Homo sapiens: one gene and its partners. The protein of the gene in region 3 interacts with the protein of the main gene of each other region in a biochemical or structural test. Each region holds a gene or a part of one and is shown on either strand. Other genes may lie near its edges.

Region 1 (5,148 bases), on a different chromosome or scaffold from region 3:
AAAGTAAATTAAAAACCTAAACATTTTTAGATCAATGTATAAAAACTCCCACAGACTGGTCTCTTTAATAATGACTTAGTCCACTCCCAAATCCTTTTTGGCAAATGTGTCAAATATTTGAAGGAAATATTTTAAAACTTAATCTAAATAAATGTCATATGCATCCTCAATGGGGGAAAAATTACCCAAAGCACTGAGGAATCTTTTCCAACTTCATTTCAAGGACATTCAGATTAACTTAATTCATAGTTCTTCCATCTACTTATATATGAAAATGAGCTCGCACTTTTATCTACAAGCAAGTTGTAAATACACATATTTCACTTTCACAAGTTTGAGTGCATACCCCAGAAAAGAAAGAGGAAAGAAAACCCACTCTTTGAGAAGTGGGCAGTGCCACAGGAGTACAAAAGAGTGGCTAACAAAACTTCCCTCCCATGTTTCAGGAGTCACCTACCTGTTAGAGCCCTTGTTTACAGCACAGTTGGCACAGTTTCAGACTCCTTACATATTGAAAACTCAAAATTCTCGGTGTAGTGGTCAAGGGAACAGTGAAATAGGAAAATATAGTTCTATCTTCCCCATCCTACCCCAAGGAAAAGAGAATCAACAACATTTTTTCTAAGACTTCTCCAAGATAGCGCCCATCACCTCACTATAGCACCCTACTCTTATTCAGAAACTGAACAATTTTACAGAAAGCAAAAGCCACACCCTTAATAATACACTCAACTCTGCACAGTGCTTGGCTTCTGTGCTAAGTACATTTCCAGAGACAGAGTTGGAGCTACATCTCCTGAGCCTACTTCAAATTAAAATCTGTGAACAGTGAGAAGTTACAAATCAGATAATAGCCCAAAATCAACTGCTGAAAGGAGGTTGGGGGGAAAAGTCATTAAACACATCCATCTTTCTTAATGAAATGACAATGTTTTTCAGCAACACAAAACACCAAAGCTACCAGTCTACACTACACAGTAGTTTGCAGAATGACAACCTGCAGTACACAGTAAAATTATTCTTAAATTATCGTTTGCTTCCTATGGTGCTCTGAAAAGTAGCAAATGCATAAAGTCATATAAGAGCTATTGTCCAATCACTGACAGCATTAAAATTATTTTTAAATCTAATTTCTGGAAAGTTCTGCAGGAGCAGTTTGAAAAGCAAATCAAATTCTAATGAGAAAAAACGCCTAGTTCAAAAATCTGAAAATATACTTTGAAGACATTCACAGTTTAAGCAGCAGGAGGGTCATAGGCACCAAGGTGTGTAACATCTGTGAGTGGCTGATACAAAAAAAGATTTCTCTGGAATTAATGATTGAAAATAATTATCAAATACAATCTAATATGATCTTTAAACGTCTGTCTCAAAAGCAACAAAGCAAAAGCTTGTAACAAAGCAAAACCTTCCAATACACAGATTTTTACACCTTACACATACCCACATACTTCACAAATTAAGAACTAGATGAAAATTAGAACACTAAAATTTAAAGGTATCTAAAATACACTATTTGAAACAGCAGACTCTTATCTTTACATTTATCTGTCAGATCTACCAGTAAAGCTCTTCTGAAATGGTCATTCCAATACAAGATTGTTCGATATGCCATTCCGTGTGAATAGAGCTTGGGAGACTAATTCTCAAAATCTCCTCAGGAGATGCTTTATTACAGCTCTAGTTTCAATTTCCTGCGACTCAAACAGCTACGTACAGAAAAACAGCTCATACATACGGAGAAGAATAAGAATACAGGGGAGCGCTCCATTCTTTTGTTTTGGTGGCAGAAGCTGCAAAAATAAAGGTTCACTGGAGCCATCTGCACCTATCCCCACCCATCACAGCCCTGCAGAGCACTTTTACCCATCCGCTTCTCAAGACTCTCTCTAGCCCCCGAGGTCGGCAGAACCCGTGGCTTTCCACGTCTCAAAGGATGGGGGTGGGGGGGAGGCTGCGAGGAAGGACACAGATCCTTTGAGGACAGAGGGACAAGGAGATGCATCCAGATGGGGAGGATGGGACGCGTCACGGAGACCCGGAGGCTTGCAAATTCGCTGGGAGAAAAGCCCTGTAGGGCAGAGAATGCTGCCTGTTCAGGGATGGGGACAGACAGAACAACAATGCTCCAAAACAGGCGACAGACACACTCCTAGTAGATCCGGGAGGGTGTGAAGTAGGTAGCTCTGAACTCGGAGCCACAAATGGGTAGAGGCAGCCTCAAACACATCTGTACCGCGAAGCTGAGACTTACGGTTACTTCTCTCGCTGAGGGTAAGGGTCGGTGGACCCAGCAACTCCGCAGTTCCGCCTCCGCCGCCCCTGCCTCTACAGCCGAGCTGGTGACCTCAGGTACCCAGCCCGCCCCACCCACCCGGACGGTTGCCCCTTCCTCGCCGGCCCGGGTGCACCCGCCAGGCGGAGGCTGATGTGGCCGAGGGTGCGCACTGGCGGCCCGCGGGAAGCGCTGCGTGAGCCGAAGGCGCCCGCGGCGAGGCTCAGACTGGGTGGGCGCCCCCCATCCCTCTCCGGCCGCTGCGCCGCCTCACTCGGGGGAGGGGAAGAGGGGGCGGTGGCTCTTGCCTCCGCCTCGCGGTCAAGCCCGGCTCATGTTCCAGCCTTGCGCGCTCGCAGCCCCGGCCGCCCTCTTCCCCTCCCCCGCCTCCGGCTCCGGCTCCGGCTCAGCCGCTGGCACCCCCACCGCCACCACCCTAGTCTCCTAGTCGCCTGCCACCAGCCCCTGAGAGACTGCAGGTCCAGTGAAAAGGAGCAGGAACGGCAGCAGCCCGGCCGCCGACCCGGAAGCTCTTTCACCGCCAACCGCGAGGCTGCAAAGGGTGTGAACCCGGAAGCGATTTCATAGCCACGGTAACGGCGGGGTGGAAAGCTAAGGCCTTTGAAGACCTGGGACCCCGTAGTTTCGGGAGAGGGTGAGGGGTGAATGGTGCTGAGGTGCGAGGAGAGGGAAGGACAGTAAAGAGCAGGTGGGCAGGAGGGTCTCCGACTCCAGAGACCTGAGCTTTTGGGGCGCGGGTGGGAGCGCGGGGGAACCCTCAAGACGGCTTTCTTTTGGCGACTGAGGGTTTTTCTGCCACAGGAAGCTGGGCCGGGCTGCTGTGCCTGGGAGGAGGGAAGGAGGAATGAGAAAGCGGTGACGGTCCCTGCCCCCCCTCGCCAGGTGACTGTCCCACCCATTTAGTTGAATGTAGCGGCCAGAGAGGCACTCGCGGCAGCCCGTACGGGTGGGACCTCTCGGTGTCCTTCGGGAAACAGGAGGAGCAAGTTCGACTCCAGCGAGGGAAAACGGAGGTGGGAGACTGAACCATCTCCACATCTAGTTGCCCCAGGCAAGGAGTTTATTTTTCACATGTAGTTACAGAGAAACCATAGCCACTTTTTGGGTGGAAACTCTTTGAGCAAAGAGGCTTACGTTTTTCCCCAGTAGTGGACGTTGACGGGTGGTGGCGCAGGAAAAAACCTCCCAGGCAGAGTGATTACGTATTTTTGTCATTGCAGGGAAAGGGATTCACAGCTTGTCATTCTAACTCACTTCTCCCCCTGTAACTCACTTCTCGCCTCTACACTTTTCTCCACCTTTTAAGGTTTTTGGCTTTCATCGCTTTTTCTACATGTTTTTAGCCTCACCAGAAGTCTTTCATCTCGGTGGTCCAACTCAGGATCTCAGCCTCATTATTTTCTTACCCTTCTGGAGTGCATATGTGCCTTTACAGTTTCTGTTTGCAAACGCTGTCTAGCATACTAAGAGGATGTTAGCAAACCTGTTCCATGGACACTAAATGGCAGTTGTACATCTCCCCTCATCAGTCATAGTGACAACCAGAAATGCCCTCCATATTTTCCAGTGATCCCAGGTAGGTGCCACCCCCCTAATTAAGGACCACTTCCACTGCTTTATTTATAAGATCTTATTACTTAGGGAGCATATTATCATTTGTGCCTAACATTTTCCAGAATGGAGTGAGCCATATAACAAAATGCCACGTTTCCTGTACTTATTCACTTGAACCCTCATCTCAGACTCAGTCTAAACATATTGCAAACTCTAGTTATACCTTTCTTGTATTTTAGTTCAAGCTACTCATTTTCTATCAGTTTGTCTGTGTTTCTCCCTTAGCAGTTTTACCTTCCTATGTTAGTTACTTTTGTTATTTTCCTGTTAAGCCTTTGTTTCCTTCTTTCATGTCACTGGAAGAATGTAGATTTTAAGTAGTCAAGTACGAATAGTTCTTGAAAATGAATTTTAAGAATATTTTGGGGATATGGTAAAAAAGTATTTGGTTTAAGAAAACAAAATACTGTTACTGTCATAGTTATGTCTTTTTAAAATCACATTTGTTTACCTTTTAAAAGTTCAGGCTTCTGTGCAGTATTAATTAAATATTCTAGAGAAGTGATGAGTATTGACAAAGTACTTTGCTAGTAAATGTTTTCTTAACATGAGTTGACCAAGACAGGAATTGATTTGCTTTAAATTGTCTTTAGAAAAGTAAGAGTTACTTGATTTTTCTTTTAGGTCCTTAATAGATAAAATGGTTTCTGTAATTGTGCCCATATATCATACAGTGTATTCACAATACAATGTCTTTCTTTTTGGGGCTTGCAGTCTTCAATGCGTCTGTCTCATAATTTGTAAACGTTTATTATCTTGAAGTCATTGTTAATCTGTGGTGAAAAGTAATTGCTAAATAGAAATTCTGAGAAGAAAAAGGCCTCATCCTTTTCACATGATGTAGGAAGGTCTGTTGCATGAGGTGGGTTTTAAGAATGATTTTATACAAAAAATTGAACTGAAAAAAATTTCATGAAGTATATAATGATAAAGAATGATAACGTCCTCAAAACCTTTCACACAATGAAATGTCTCTATCCTAATGTGTCACTGTATTTTTTTCTAGTGAAATATCTGTAGGGTTTTTTTGGATCTAAATCAATGGAAAGTTTTAGAATTTAAAATAAATTTGAAAAGTATTTAAATTATTTTATTTAAAATTTTTGTACAATAATTTTAATGGTTGTTTTAATCTTAGGCTAAAGTTTATGTAAAATGCCAAAAGCTACTGTATTTTAAAAGAATTTCTTCTTAGGGTAATTTTACAATCATAAGGCACTTTTTAATTATTATTTAGG
Region 2 (4,377 bases), on a different chromosome or scaffold from region 3:
CTTTTCTCCCTTCACAACACCCAGAAGGTTCTCTGTTTTCAGCTCCCCCATAGTACCTTCCTAAGACGGCCAACTCAATGCTTTGGAAAAGCATTCACTCAGCACACTGTTTCACTTGCTCCTCAAGGAGGTTGCCCCGGGAGAGGCTGGGTATTATACCCAGTTCACAAATGGGTAACCTGAGGCTCAAAAACAAACACAAAGGCCCACTTGACTTCCAAAGGCCACATGTCTAGATTCCTCCCTACTGAGGGAAAGGTGAAAAACTCACTGGTTTGTTGTGGGTGCAGGTGTGGCACTCATTCCCTCGGGGGAGGGCGGACAACAGTCCCCTGGAGGCCTTCAGTGAAGCAGATAAAGGGAGAGCAGGCGGGAATTGCTGACAAGGGTAGCATCGATTGTCACCAACAGCAACTGGCCCAGATTCCACCCTCTGTAACATGCCTGGTTTTAAGGCCACATGAAAGCCAGTGTTCTCTCCAGCACATTGTGCTCTTTATAGAACAGATTTTTAAAAGGAGGGAAAAAATCAACATGTGCTGTGGCTGTTTGCTGTAGCAACTTCCCCAGAAAATTGCCGAGAACAGCACCATTTCTGCCTGAACCTCAAGGAAAACCACCTTGAGATAGGCCCTGGATAGCCCTGCCTTACTGTGGATACAATCCTTTGTCATTTCTTTGCCCAAAGAGATTTTGAAGTCAAGCTACAAAGCAGTTCATGGGCTCTCTTGGTGTTTTCTGGCCCTTCTGAAACTCAAGGCCCTGGGGAGGGTGAGGAAGTTGGCAGTCTTCACGAACTGTCTTTCTTAACTAATCAACTCAGCAAACAATATGGGTGGATTCACTGGACCTTCAAGAAAGTTCCCTAGTTTAGAGGTTAGGGAACTGTATCAGAGCAATCAGAATCAAGGAAACAGTACAAATGTCAGAGAACAAAACCACAGTAGGAACTCCTCGAGGGCCCCTGTACTTTGCAGTGGAGCCTGAAACCCAGGAGGCATCAGTGATGTTTGATATTCAAGGAATGAAAAAGGGATCACTAAGAAGGTGAACCCCACTGTCTCCCTCTCAAACAAGCCAAAGCCGCATTCACTCCCTGGGTGTGGGTCCAGAGGGGCTGGAGCTGAAACTGAACTGCTGTGTGTTCAACTTGAGCACAGCACCAGGGAGGTCAGCAAGAGTGTCCCAAACACAACAGCAGGAAGAGGGAGGTGTCAGGAATCTCGTCAGGGCCCACCTCTTTTCTGCAATACAACCGAGATCTTCCTGGAGATTCTCAGTGGAGTTTTGGCAGCACGAGTAATTTGTTTGGCAGACAGAAGACGACCGTCTGAGGGGACGAGGTGAATAACTGGAAGTCCAAAGGAGGACACTGGTCTCCTTAGAGGATTATTTTGTGAAATTGCAAGACAGGCATGAGCTGCGCTGGATGGTCTGAGATAATTTGTGGAAATCACACAAACGGAGCCAGTGTTAGCAGAGGACGAGGAAATGGCTTCCTCATACAGAACCCTTTGTCCCGAGATGGGATGCTAGCCACGCTAACAGGATCCTTCCCCAGAATGGTCTTGCAGTTTCCACCCTCCGGAATGGGCCTCCGATCTTGTCTATGCAAGATGGTCCAAGTTACTTCCTTAATCAGTGGAGATGTCCTTTCCACCACCACTAACACAACACCTACTAAGGACAGGCTCTCAGGTTTCATGGGAGACATGGACAGGTCCCAGGAAGGACCCAACCCAGCCTCCCCTCCAGCAGAGGACAGCCAAGGAGGCCTTTCTGGAGAAAGGAGGAGAGTTCCATGATTAAAAAGGAGGAAGGAGAGATGGTAAGCATTCCCAGCTGAGAGAGGCCATAGACCCACCTCTTAAATGGCCCTCTCACATCCATATTTGAAGAGGGTTACTTGGAATCTTCTTAGGTTCCGTGGGGGTGGGGCAGAGGGTGAAGGCAGGAGAACAAGGTGGAGACCTGGGCCCCCACCCACCTCTCTTCAAACAGAACTCTATGCAGATTTAAAATGTATAGCTGCAGAAAGTCTCCCCACAGATTTAAAGAAAGGAAAGATTAAACTGCTGGGGAGGGCACTCAAGGCCCCCAGACTGTTAAGGAGCCTCACTTTCTACCAGCTCAGTTGCAAGAAAACCCGCTGGACTCAAAAGGTCAGAGATGGAGCCCAGGCAGGTAGGGCATAGGCAGGTCTGCAAACAATGTTAGGTGGGAAAGTCAAAGATCTGGGTCAAAGAGACCTGCTTATGGCCCCGATTGTGTAATCCATTCCCATTCTGTAGTGCTGGGGCTTACGCCCCACCCGAGGGAGCCCAGGTTTCTTTTCACATGGCCCCCACCCCGAGAACACGGCTCCAGGTTGGCACCTACTCATGGCCCTCTACCTCTGCAGCCGCCTTCCTGTGGGGCCTCAGTGTCCCCAGCCCTTCTGCCTACCTGCCTGGGCTAAGTTCTCAGCCAAGACCGCTATCTAGCCTGCCTCTATCTCCAAGTTGAAAGATAAAAAGCAAGTGGACACGCGGTACTTCCATCACACAGCCATCAAGGGAGGCAGGAACAACAGCCTGGGGTGGATCCAGGAAACAAGCTCCTTCTCAAAAGGTGGGCCCAGAGGGTGTGGGTGGCCTCCAAGCGCAATGTTGGAGGGTGGAAAGGGCTCAGGAGGCTCACCTTGGGCAGAACCCCACTCACTGGACTCTGGACAGAAGAGTCACCAGCCTGAGCCTCAATTTTCTGACCTGAGAGGTGGAAAGAATGTCTTCTACCTCAGTTAGCTGATGTGATGCATTGAACCTCCAAGGCACTATAGCAAACAAGAGCTATTTACTGAGCACTCACTAATTCCCTGGCACTGTGGACACAGGGTGGCCTGAAGGTACAGCGGCATGTATGACTACACCTTCCTTCTTCTCTCCCCTGTCATTCCAGAGCAGAGGTTCTCAACTCTGTCTGCCTGCAGGATACCCCATTCCCAACCCAGCCAAAGGAGCTTTGAAACAACAGCATATCCCCTGATGGAGAGAGAATCGCAGGAGACCGGGCCTGGAAATGTGCATTTCAGACAAGATTTTCATGACACTATTATGCAACCTACATAAGCTTAGCAAAAAGCAATACCTAGGTCAAGCATTTGCAGGCACTTTCACAGCCTTGGGTAGGTTTAGGACAAAGGGTCCCAGACTCTGCCTGCCAAGAAGATGCCTTGAGAATGTCTTCTGCGGGTGCTACTGACGGCAAACACCTACACGCTGTTTTCCACATGCTCAGTGCTGTTCTCAGGTTACACAGATTAATATTTACACATTCTGATGGCATCATGTCTGTTACTCTCATTTTACAGAAAAGCAAACTGAGGCATGGAGCTCCTGACTGCCTTTTCATTTGAGCCTGATTTCTTCAGGCGCCCCAACATGTTGTCATGGAAAAAAAACAAAGGCTCTGAAGTCCAACTGTCCGGGTTCAAAGTCTGGCTCTCCCACCTGAGCCATATGGCAACAGGCAAATCCTGAAACTCTCCTGGCCTCAGTTGCCTCATCCATTCAATGGAGCAATACGATCCAGGCAACGTTCTTGCGAGGATGAAGGCAGATGGAGGGAGACAGTGGCTGCTCTGGAGGGAGAGAGATGTCGTGTCCCTCCCTGGCCTTCCTTCCAGGCTGAGTCAAACCTGAACCCTGCTTGAGTCTCAGATGCTGAGTCATCACGCTTTCTCTCCCAGGACAAGGCCTCTGAGTCACATCTGGAATGGGATTCTCTGGGGTTGGGTCCCAAGGAAGAACTGCAGCTTTGGGCCACCCGAAAAACACAATGCTATCTTTCTTTCAGGTCCATGAGGAGGCAAGTTCAGGCCAGCGGATTTCAACGTAACCCAGGGGGGCCCTCAGCTCAGTTGAGATCTGTCTTCTGTCATGGGGGGGGGGCAGCCCCATTCAGTCAAAGGCCAACTCAGGGGGCTGCAGCCTCTAAGCCCCTGCCCTTCAGGCTGGCTTTGCTAATCTCTCAAGAACACCTGATTTACACTTAAAAAAAATCATTCCGCTCTGCCCCTTTGGCCTCAAAAGTTTCCTCACCAGAAATTCAATGAAGATGCAATTTCCTTTCGCCCCTCCATAGCAGGCAGGCAAAATCCTGCCAGGAACCCTTTCCACTGCCTTCAGTCCCACCCAGGAGCCTCTCACAAAGCTGAGCTCCAGCTCAGTTCGGCCTGGGCACATCCCTCCCCATCCCTGTGCCTCATTTTCCATCTGTAAAATGGAAAGAAGTTGGACTAGGTAGGTCCTGTGTGAGTTTTTTATTCCATTCCAAATGATCAAACTTTGTTGCTCCAAAAGAACTTCCTCACAAGAGACCCAAACAGACACTCCAGGA
Region 3 (4,537 bases):
ATCTGAAAACCTCTGCATTCAACACCAGATTCCATCCTGCAGAACTACATTTACATAAAGTCCAAAACAGGCACAACCAATCTGATCTGCACTGTCAGAAGTCACAGTGAAGGGCTAGGCGTGGTGGCTCACACCTGTAATCCCAGCACTTTAGGAGGCTGAGACAGGAGGATCATTTGAGCCCAGGAGTTCGAGACCAGCTCGGGCAACATAGTGAGATTCCCATCTTATTTTTAAAATATTTAAATAAAAAGTAGTGGTTACCCTTGGGGAGGGCAAATGACTGGAAGGGGGCACAATAATGGGTTCTGGGGGGCAGTTATGTGCTCTTTCTTGACCAAGGCGCTGGTTGGGTAAGTGCGGTTTATGAAAATTTACCATTTGTGTACTTTTCTATATGCAGCATAATTGACAGGAAGGTTTTAAAAACAAGCCAATACCCTAGGCCACATACATGACACCTGCAGTCTGGATCCTGACAGTCTGGGACCAAAGGCTGTCTTGCGCTTTAGAGCTGGATGCAGCTGAGCCCATCTGCAATTCCTATGGTCCCTACTTTACTGCTGGCATGAGCCCGGGGCAGTGCAGGGGCCCAGAAAGTGCTAGATCCCGGCCCACCAAACTCCCTGGGACAGTGCCCTCCTGAGAACCAGTCAACCCCCTGACGCCCATTCCCTTGGACCTGGTGTGGTGCTGGTCACTCACCGGTGATGAGGACAAGGGCAGAGAGGCAGGCGAAGGCAGGGACATCGACAAGCAAGCTGTGCAGGGACCTTGAGAAGGCCAGGATACTGTCAATCCAGTCCCCGAAGCCACGGGCACACTGCAGCCGGTGTAGCACCAGGCCTGAGCAGAAGATGAGCTTGCCCTCGCCTGGCTTAGACCTGGCAGGCAGATGGGCACGAAGAGCGATCAGGGTGGTTCACAGGCAGGTGTATCAGGGAAAGGGGCTGGGCAGACAGTCAGTGGCTCTCACCTGTACGCCAGGCGGAGGATGAAGAGCTCCAGGAAGGCCGACTCCAGCAACAGGTCCTGGTCAGCCGGTGACAGCTCAGCAAAGCCAGGGATCTTCTCCGCCCACTTGCGGATGACCTCCAGAGAACCGGAGAGCAGGTCGTAGAACTGCTGTACATCCCCAGCATCTTCCTTCCCAAAGTGGGGCAGCACCAGCTCCTGGAACTAGGAAGACGGTCCAGTGGGGTCAGCACCCCAGGCAGGCTCCTACACCCACTGCCACGTATGGCTGTGTCAGACACTTGGATGCCAGATCCCGGGAGTGGGAGTGGATCTGAGATCCTGCCCAGGCTCTCACTTGCCAAGTCTCACATATTAACCCAGGGCTGCAGCTGCCAAAAGGACATATTTTTCTAATTGGCCACCTGCCTGAGGGGGTGCATTTTCCCATCTGGTCAGCCGAGAGGGGGATCCTCTCTTTGATCTGTCGAACTGGAGGGAGTCGCTTTTCTTTCTTTCTTTTTTAAACCTCCTTTCTCATTCAGTCCTTCCAGAGGGGGTAGCTCTCCTAACACGCACAAAGGCACTGCATGTGCTCATAGACCTCCCCAAGGCAGACACGGGGTGGGACCTCACCTTGGAGTAGTCCAGTTTGGCAGTGCTGGGCCCTGAGTCCAGGTGTGCACGGACCAGGGAAGTGAGGAGATTGGCAGGGGAGGCATCTGGGGGCTGCTTGGGTTTTGAAGGTAGCCGGCCCCGCCGCCCCTTCAGGCTGTCTGTTCGGACAACTGCAAAGGAATGGGTAGGGGTGAGGAAGGAAGGGATCTGAGGAAGGGCCTCTCAGCCCAAGCCGTGCACACCACTGCTGAGACGCGCCCCACCGAGTCCCTAGGACCCAGAGTCCCTGAGATCCAAGGTACCCTATAGGAACCTCCCCCTGCCACCACCCTCACAATCCAGGCAGGTGTAGGCTGCCTCCCTCCAAGGCCTGGGGTTCAGAGGTGGGGTGGAAATAAGACGTGCCCTCCTCTGGGTCCTCCAGGGCAGAAGCCTGGGGGCCCTGCTGGTCCCACTCCACTCAAGCCTACCCTTGCCCCGCTGGGCCGCACCCCAGCCACACACCTTCCTTCACCATGCCCACCGCCAGGCACTTCTGGAAGCGGCAGAACTGGCAGCGGTTTCGCCGCCTCTTGTCCACAGGGCAGTCCTTGTTAGCCAGGCAGATGTACTTGGCGTTTTTCTGCACTGTGCGCTGGGTGGGGGGGCAACACGGAACAAGCTGTCAGAGTGTGGGGTGGGGAGGGGGGAACTTAGGGGAGGGGACCGTCCAGATCCTGCTGCCATTGCAGACAAAAGCGCTCTCTGTTCACAGCTATTTTTCTAACATTTGGGTGGCAAGGGAGGGAGAGACGGGGTTGGGCGGGGGGAGAGAAAAGTCTTGAAGACATTGGGGGAGGTTTCTCGCTCTGAGGAAGTCCCCAGGACACACTACTGGGGGCCAGGGTCTCCCTGGCAGTCTAGACACCTGTATTTTTTCATGGGCCCTTGTCCACCTGCCTTCTCCCTAGGGCAGACAGGAGAGGGCCAAGGGGCTGGGGGGTGGGGACGGGAAGCTAAGCAGGCACCATCGCTGGGACAAACACACAGCCTGTTCCCAAGTCCACCCCCAGCCCTCAAGAACCAAACCCTCCGCAGGGATCCTTTCATCTCACGCCAGGAACATGAGAGCCTGGGGGCACCCCTTCCCACTAGAACCTTGAGTTGGGAGAGGACAGGCAGAGGAGCAGAGGAAAACCAGAGGCTCGCCAGGCACCCCTGCAGCTCCTATCTGCCCCTATCTCACCCCTCCCTCCAGCTCTGTGCAATCCCATGGGCCCGAGTGTCCCGGCAAATGAAAGCTTCCAGCCCTGGCATCTACGGGTCTCCAGGAAGGCGGCCCACCTGGCAGGGCTGATCCCACCCTGCAGGACAGGACTTAGCTAGGAGGAGAACCCAGGGGGAGACCACAGGTCCCAATGGGATGAGGCCAGCCTCTCTCCATTTCCAACAAAAGGCCCCACCTGGGGCTGCGCGGTACCTTGAAGAAGCCCTTGCAGCCCTCACATGTGCGGACACCATAATGCTGGCATGAAGCGTTGTCCCCACACACAGCACAGCGGCCTTCACTTCCACCTGGGGCCCCGCTCCGGGCCTTGGTTGAGGTCACGGGTGTATCCAGTATCCCCGAGCCCTCAAGGTGTGGAGAAGTGGGTGCCAAACCTGGGAAGGCCGTAGGCATGGAATAGCTCTCTCCCTCCCCCAGCTGGTGGGTGGCCTGTGAGGGGAACAACTTCAGGGGGCTCTGGGCCAGGCTGGGGCTGGGGCCGGTGGGAGGACTGAAGGAAAAGAAGGCTGGAGGCTGTGGGGGCCCAGAGGCTTTGGGCAGCTGCTCTGTCCATGCCCGCAGGCCTTCGTAAGTCTGGCTGGGCGAGAAGTGGCCGAAGGAGCCATCCCAGGGAGAGAGCTGGGGCGGCTGGAAGCTGGGCGTGGAGGGCGACGGGGCCGAGCAGGGGCTGCCATAGTAGTCAGAGCCACTGGAGGACAGGGCCTCATCCACTGGGCCGCTCAGGGGGCCGGGGTAGCAGCCGTACACCTGGAAGTCCTCGAACTTGAAGGAGGCAGAGGCAGGGGAGGTGGCTGAGGACGAGGATGTGGAGGAGGCCGAGGAGGAGGCTGAGGAGCATGGCTGGACTGTTCCTGGCAGCTGGTAGAGGAAGGTGTCAAACTCTCCTGTGTAGCCGTCCATGAAGGTGCTGAAGCTGGGCAGGGCAGTGGGGGCAGCGGGGGCTGCCTCGGGGCTGGCCAGGTCCATGGTGGGCTTGATGAACTCAGGGGTCAGGGGGTCGCTTGCCAGGTGGTCACGGGGTCCCGGACTCGGTGCTGGTGTCCCATATTGGGCTTGGATACAGGGCATCTCTGGAGAGAGAGGAGACCCCAGGGAGGGAAAGGAGAGTCAGTGGGACAAGCCTATAGCCTTGTCTCAAAGTATTTGGGCCCCAGAGCAGCAAGGTGGCAGGAATCCCAGCCTAAAGATGAGACAGAGGCACCGGGACCAGAGCACCCAGGAATCCTGACCCCTGGCCTGAGTACCATCTCGACCTAGGTGCCACAAAGCCCCTGGGCAGCGGCCCAGCATGAGTGGGCTCCATCAGAAGGCCAGCCACACCCTAGTCAGCCTGGGAACCCTAGGGGAGGCATACAGCCAGCATTTCTCTGCTAGAACAGGGGGAAGCTGTGTTCCTCCAGCCCCCTGCCCCTCCCCCATGGGGAAGGCATGGTGGGGGCCGGGAGAAGGGTGAGTGGGAGAGGCAGCCCAGCAAAGCCTCAGCCCAGCTCCCAGGAGCAGCTCCCTGGTTGTTTCGCCAACCAGGCACTTCCTGGGAATACTCCCAGGCCTCTGCAAAGCCCCTTTTCTCCTCCCCTCGCAGTGCCTAGGAAGAAGGACATCGTGAAAATGGAAGAGGAGCTGGAAGTGAAAGCCCACCTGCCTAAGAAGGCAGCCTAATGCAGAGGCCCTAGCCTGTCCCCCATTTCCACCCCAACC
Region 4 (4,377 bases), on a different chromosome or scaffold from region 3:
AATATACTAAAAACCACTGAATGGTATACTTCAAATGGGTGAATTGCATGACACAGAAATTATATTTCAATAAAGCTGTTATAAAAGAGATTCAAACAGATAGTTGTCCCATTTTTCAAAAAGGGAAATAAAGGAAATTATATCAGTTATAGACTGGACAGCCAAGCAAAAGTCAATGATTAGTAGTGGTATATAACTACTTCAAAAGAAGTAACAATTACCAAGAGCAGGTAAAAGTTCATTGAGAAATACTATTTCCTTCCATGAATAAAAACAACAAAGAACAATAGCAATAAATCAGAAAAATGCAACCAGACACAGTATATGAAGATTTCAAAATGGCATTTTACAAAATGTTTCTAATAATAACATCCATGTGAATAAGATGATGAATTGGAAACAGCTGGATAACTGTGATAGTTAGACACGTAATTTCTGCAATATGCTCAAAAGTTGCTAATGAATTAATCCAGCTATTACAAAGATATCCTGAGCAAAACTGGGAAGTGAAGCCCACAAGTGAAAAGTCAGAACAAGGAAGAAAAAAGCAATCACAGCAATCACTAGTAGACCAGGAAGAGCAACCACATTTCACCTTTGAAATTTAATAGGGAGAAACATGAAGTACTATACTTAATTCTCCATAATCAAAAGAAAAAATATAAAGACTGGGTGAGATGGGAACTGTAAGGCAGGCCTGTAACAAAGAAAGACAACGGGAGTCAGATGGGGACGAAATTTCTAAACAGGGTTTTAATGTCTACAGTTAAGAGATGACATGCCTCAGCTCCTCTCAGAGGATTTGATCAGACGTGCAGTACTGTGTGCTAGGTGGCTTATGCAGTAGTGTGTGCTAGGTCACTTTCAAAGTGTGTTCAGAGATAAACGGCCAAGATTAAAAAAGAAACTCAAGACCATCTATGAAAAGAATGAGAAAAACCAGAGATGCTTAGACCAGTGAAGAGACAATCTGTACAGAGGATGAAATTGTTTAAAAGGCAAAACACTACAAAAACATCCATCCATGGGTGAGTGGAATAATTCAGTTACCATTTCCAGTTTTCCCATATTTAGCTTTATACTCACTCACTGAACAAATATATTCTGAGTACCTACTCTTGTCCACACTCTTCTAGGTGCTGAGAGTTCTGCCTGGATAAACCTCTGCCACCCCTGCTAGAGGCCTAATCATGTGAGACATGCTTAGTCATACTCCATGCAGTTGAAGGAACCACCTTTCTTTGCAGTCACCCAGGCTTGAGAGGTAGGATTAACTGAACTCCTCCCCAAGGAAAAACTAAGGCAACACCACCACTGCCATGGAACTGCGTTCACAGGCCACAAGGGGCACGAGCAGCTCTATCCATGGACAGGATGCCACCAGCAAAACTGTGATGAGCAACACATCAAGTTCCCGCTTGGAACAAGAATGGCTACCACAACTTCCTCCCTATTATTATCTAAGTTTAATCTTTGTCTCTGGACCTTTTTTACGTCATTCTTCCTCTCTGAAGGCTCCTTTCCTTCAACAATCCAATTTTTACCCCATCTTTAAGAGTCAGCCTAGGTCTACTCCTCCCCAAAGCCTTCCCAGTTAATTAAAGCTCACAGAAATCGTCCCTCTTTTTAGATTTCAATATATGGGCCACCATCATCATTTGACAAACGGCCACTGCTTTGTGATGTTTGATATTTAACTCTCTGTATGTCTGTTTTGTATTCAAAACACCATTGTAAGCTCCCCAAATAAAGGGCCTAATCCTGAACTTCCATGATTTTTTTTTCCCTTGATAATGAACCCAGTAACTCCAATACACAGAGGCCTGCACATATTTAGATCTCAAAATGTGGTAAATTGTATTATCTGTAGTCAGAAGGTACTGTGCTCATTATATTATATAAACTCTTTTGGACAAACACTACGAAATGTCTTTAGTCAGATGCCTTCGGTTTAGGACTGCCTAAAAGTGTCCCTTACACAATTCACTCCTAGTTTATTTCCTCAACTGAAGAAATCATTCCATTAGAACAATCACAAAAGTATGAATAAGCTTAATGTAAGTTTAAAAAAGTATAACTGTTTATTCTCAAAATGAGTGCAACTTATATATCTTTATAAAGACTTATCTTTGCAATCATTAGAAAATAGAATTAGAAACATGTTAATACCCTCTAGATAGTTTCAAACACTTTCTGCTAAACCCACTATCCTCATCATAAAGTGATCAGTGAATACTGCCATCACTTAAAGAGGTGGGAGTGGGGTAGGGAGAAGTGATATAAATTTTATATTCAATATGATTAAAGTCAGAGTGTCAAAGCATAATGGGAACAATTTCATCTCTGTGCTAATGCTACAGTTTTCTAAATGTCAGCCTGACGGAGAACAAAAAGCAGAAGATGAGATCAAGCTGAATAAAATTCTTCTCAAACGCTTATCTTTTTAAAACTCCTTTTGTAAATTAAATGACAGGAAATCATATAATCTAAATTTTAGAAGCCATTCTTCTGATACAATTTAATAAAGTTGAGGAAAATCACCCTGTAGATATATATATATATATATATATCCCTTTTAAACAATGTTTTAATACAGAACAATTTAAAGCCCCTAATATTTAGTCTTTGATATTCACATATTCATGAATAAATCTTGATTTCATCTATACTTAGGAAACCAAAAATGTTCACTTACATTTTTGTGATTAACACATTTCATAAGAACTAGCTCTCTGTAGGCCCGCTTGGCATGAGTCTGATTCTGAAATGGTCGGCTTAGCTTCTTGATTGCAACATTTCTTTCAAGAATGGCATCATAAGCTGCGCTGTAATAAGAAATTCAAAAACACACAAAAAAACTTCAAGCAAAAATCTGTAAACTGAATTCATGAAACAGTCATATACATTTCTCACTTTCTCCAAAGACAAGTAACTGGATCCCTTCCAAGTCTATGACGCTCAACATGTGTCTTCTATATCTATTACAACATATATTTTTTTGCAACTATTTCCTAAAATGCTAATGGATCCAAATAGACAGTGGACTATGCCAACAGAGACCCTGCATGTTCGTTGTGTTGCCTCAAAGATCCACCTAGTACATCGTGGGCACTCAATGTACAAATCCATAATTATTTAGCTCCACTAGATAGCCTAAAGCCTAAATAAATCCTTAACCTTGTACTTCCATCAAGAAAAGGTAGGATAAAGAATGCATACGAGGCTGGGTGCAGTGGCTCACGCCTGTAATCCCAGCACTTTGGGAGGTCAAGGTGGGTGGATCATGAGGTCAGGAGATCGAGACCATCCTGGCCAACACAGTGAAACTCCGCCTCTACTAAAATACAAAAAAATTAGCTGGGTGTGATGGTGCACACCTGTAGTCCCAGCTACTTGAGAGGCTAAGGCAAGGGAATCACTTGAACCTGGGAGGCGGAAGTTGCAGTGAGCCAAGATCGCACCACCGCACTCCAGCCTGGTAGACTCCCTCAAAAAAAAAAAAAGCATATAAATTCTACTCAAAAGATTTGCTGAATAATTCTATGTAAACACATTACTTCTATCCTTTTGGACACAATAAAATAAATACAGAAGGGCCAGGCGCAGTGGCTCACGCCTGTAATCCCAGCACTTTGGGAGGCCGAGGCGGGTAGATCACGAGATCAGGAGATCGAGACCATCCCGGCTAACATGGTGAAACCCTGTCTCTACTAAAAATACACACACACACACACACACACACACACACACACACACACAAATTAGCCGGGCGTGGTGGCAGGCACCTGTAGCCCCAGCTACTCCGGAGGCTGAGGCGGGAGAATGGCGTGAACCCGGGAGGCGGAGCTTGCAGTGAGCCAAGATCACGCCACTGCACTCTAGCCTGGGCGACAGAGTGAGACTCTGTCTCAAAAAAAAACAAAAAAACAAAAAAACAAAAAACAAAAAACAAAATCTGAACAGAGAGCTGGCTTTCAGAATCCTAATACTGACTATATAATATGATTTTCTTTAAATTTAATTTATGGTTGGTTAAATGTGGTTGGTTACAATGAGAACAGGCCAGTCAAAACGGCTTACAAAATGACTCCAACTTCTATAATTTTTGATATTGTAAATTACTTCAAGAATGCAGGAAAGATAATAAATGCCATTCTATTATGCAAATTTATTAAATCTTAATACGTTACCATAATTGCTCTGATTTTTTTTTTTTTTTTAGACGGAGTCTCACTCTATCACCCAGGCTGGAGTGCAGTGACACCATCTCAGCTCACCACAACCTCCACCTCCCGGGTTCAAGCTATTCTCCTGCCTCCGCCTCCCAAGTAGCTGGGATTACAGGCATGTGCCACCATGCCCAGCTAATTTTTGTAT

Evidence for each region.
Region 1: the proteins of NR4A1 (region 3) and ANKIB1 form a complex in vitro, tested with the Homo sapiens proteins (one study listed by BioGRID).
Region 2: the proteins of NR4A1 (region 3) and NDRG1 form a complex in vitro, tested with the Homo sapiens proteins (one study listed by BioGRID).
Region 4: of the proteins of NR4A1 (region 3) and MAPK8, one has a biochemical effect on the other in vitro, tested with the Homo sapiens proteins (2 studies listed by BioGRID).

What each region holds. Positions count from the first base shown.
Region 1 is NC_000007.14:92,243,626-92,248,773, reverse strand, and holds the start of ANKIB1 (ankyrin repeat and IBR domain-containing protein 1), read right to left. Parts: upstream 2,801-5,148; 5' UTR 2,255-2,800; intron 1-2,254. UniProt on the Homo sapiens protein: Might act as an E3 ubiquitin-protein ligase, or as part of E3 complex, which accepts ubiquitin from specific E2 ubiquitin-conjugating enzymes and then transfers it to substrates.
Region 2 is NC_000008.11:133,290,753-133,295,129, forward strand, and holds part of NDRG1 (protein NDRG1), read right to left. Parts: intron 1-4,377. UniProt on the Homo sapiens protein: Stress-responsive protein involved in hormone responses, cell growth, and differentiation. Acts as a tumor suppressor in many cell types. Necessary but not sufficient for p53/TP53-mediated caspase activation and apoptosis.
Region 3 is NC_000012.12:52,053,699-52,058,235, reverse strand, and holds part of NR4A1 (nuclear receptor subfamily 4immunitygroup A member 1), read right to left. Parts: intron 3,910-4,537; coding exon of another isoform or gene 3,908-3,909; coding exon 3,032-3,907; intron 2,207-3,031; coding exon 2,077-2,206; intron 1,743-2,076; coding exon 1,591-1,742; intron 1,180-1,590; coding exon 977-1,179; intron 885-976; coding exon 706-884; intron 1-705. UniProt on the Homo sapiens protein: Orphan nuclear receptor. Binds the NGFI-B response element (NBRE) 5'-AAAGGTCA-3'. Binds 9-cis-retinoic acid outside of its ligand-binding (NR LBD) domain.
Region 4 is NC_000010.11:48,403,300-48,407,676, reverse strand, and holds part of MAPK8 (mitogen-activated protein kinase 8), read right to left. Parts: intron 2,826-4,377; coding exon 2,696-2,825; intron 1-2,695. UniProt on the Homo sapiens protein: Serine/threonine-protein kinase involved in various processes such as cell proliferation, differentiation, migration, transformation and programmed cell death.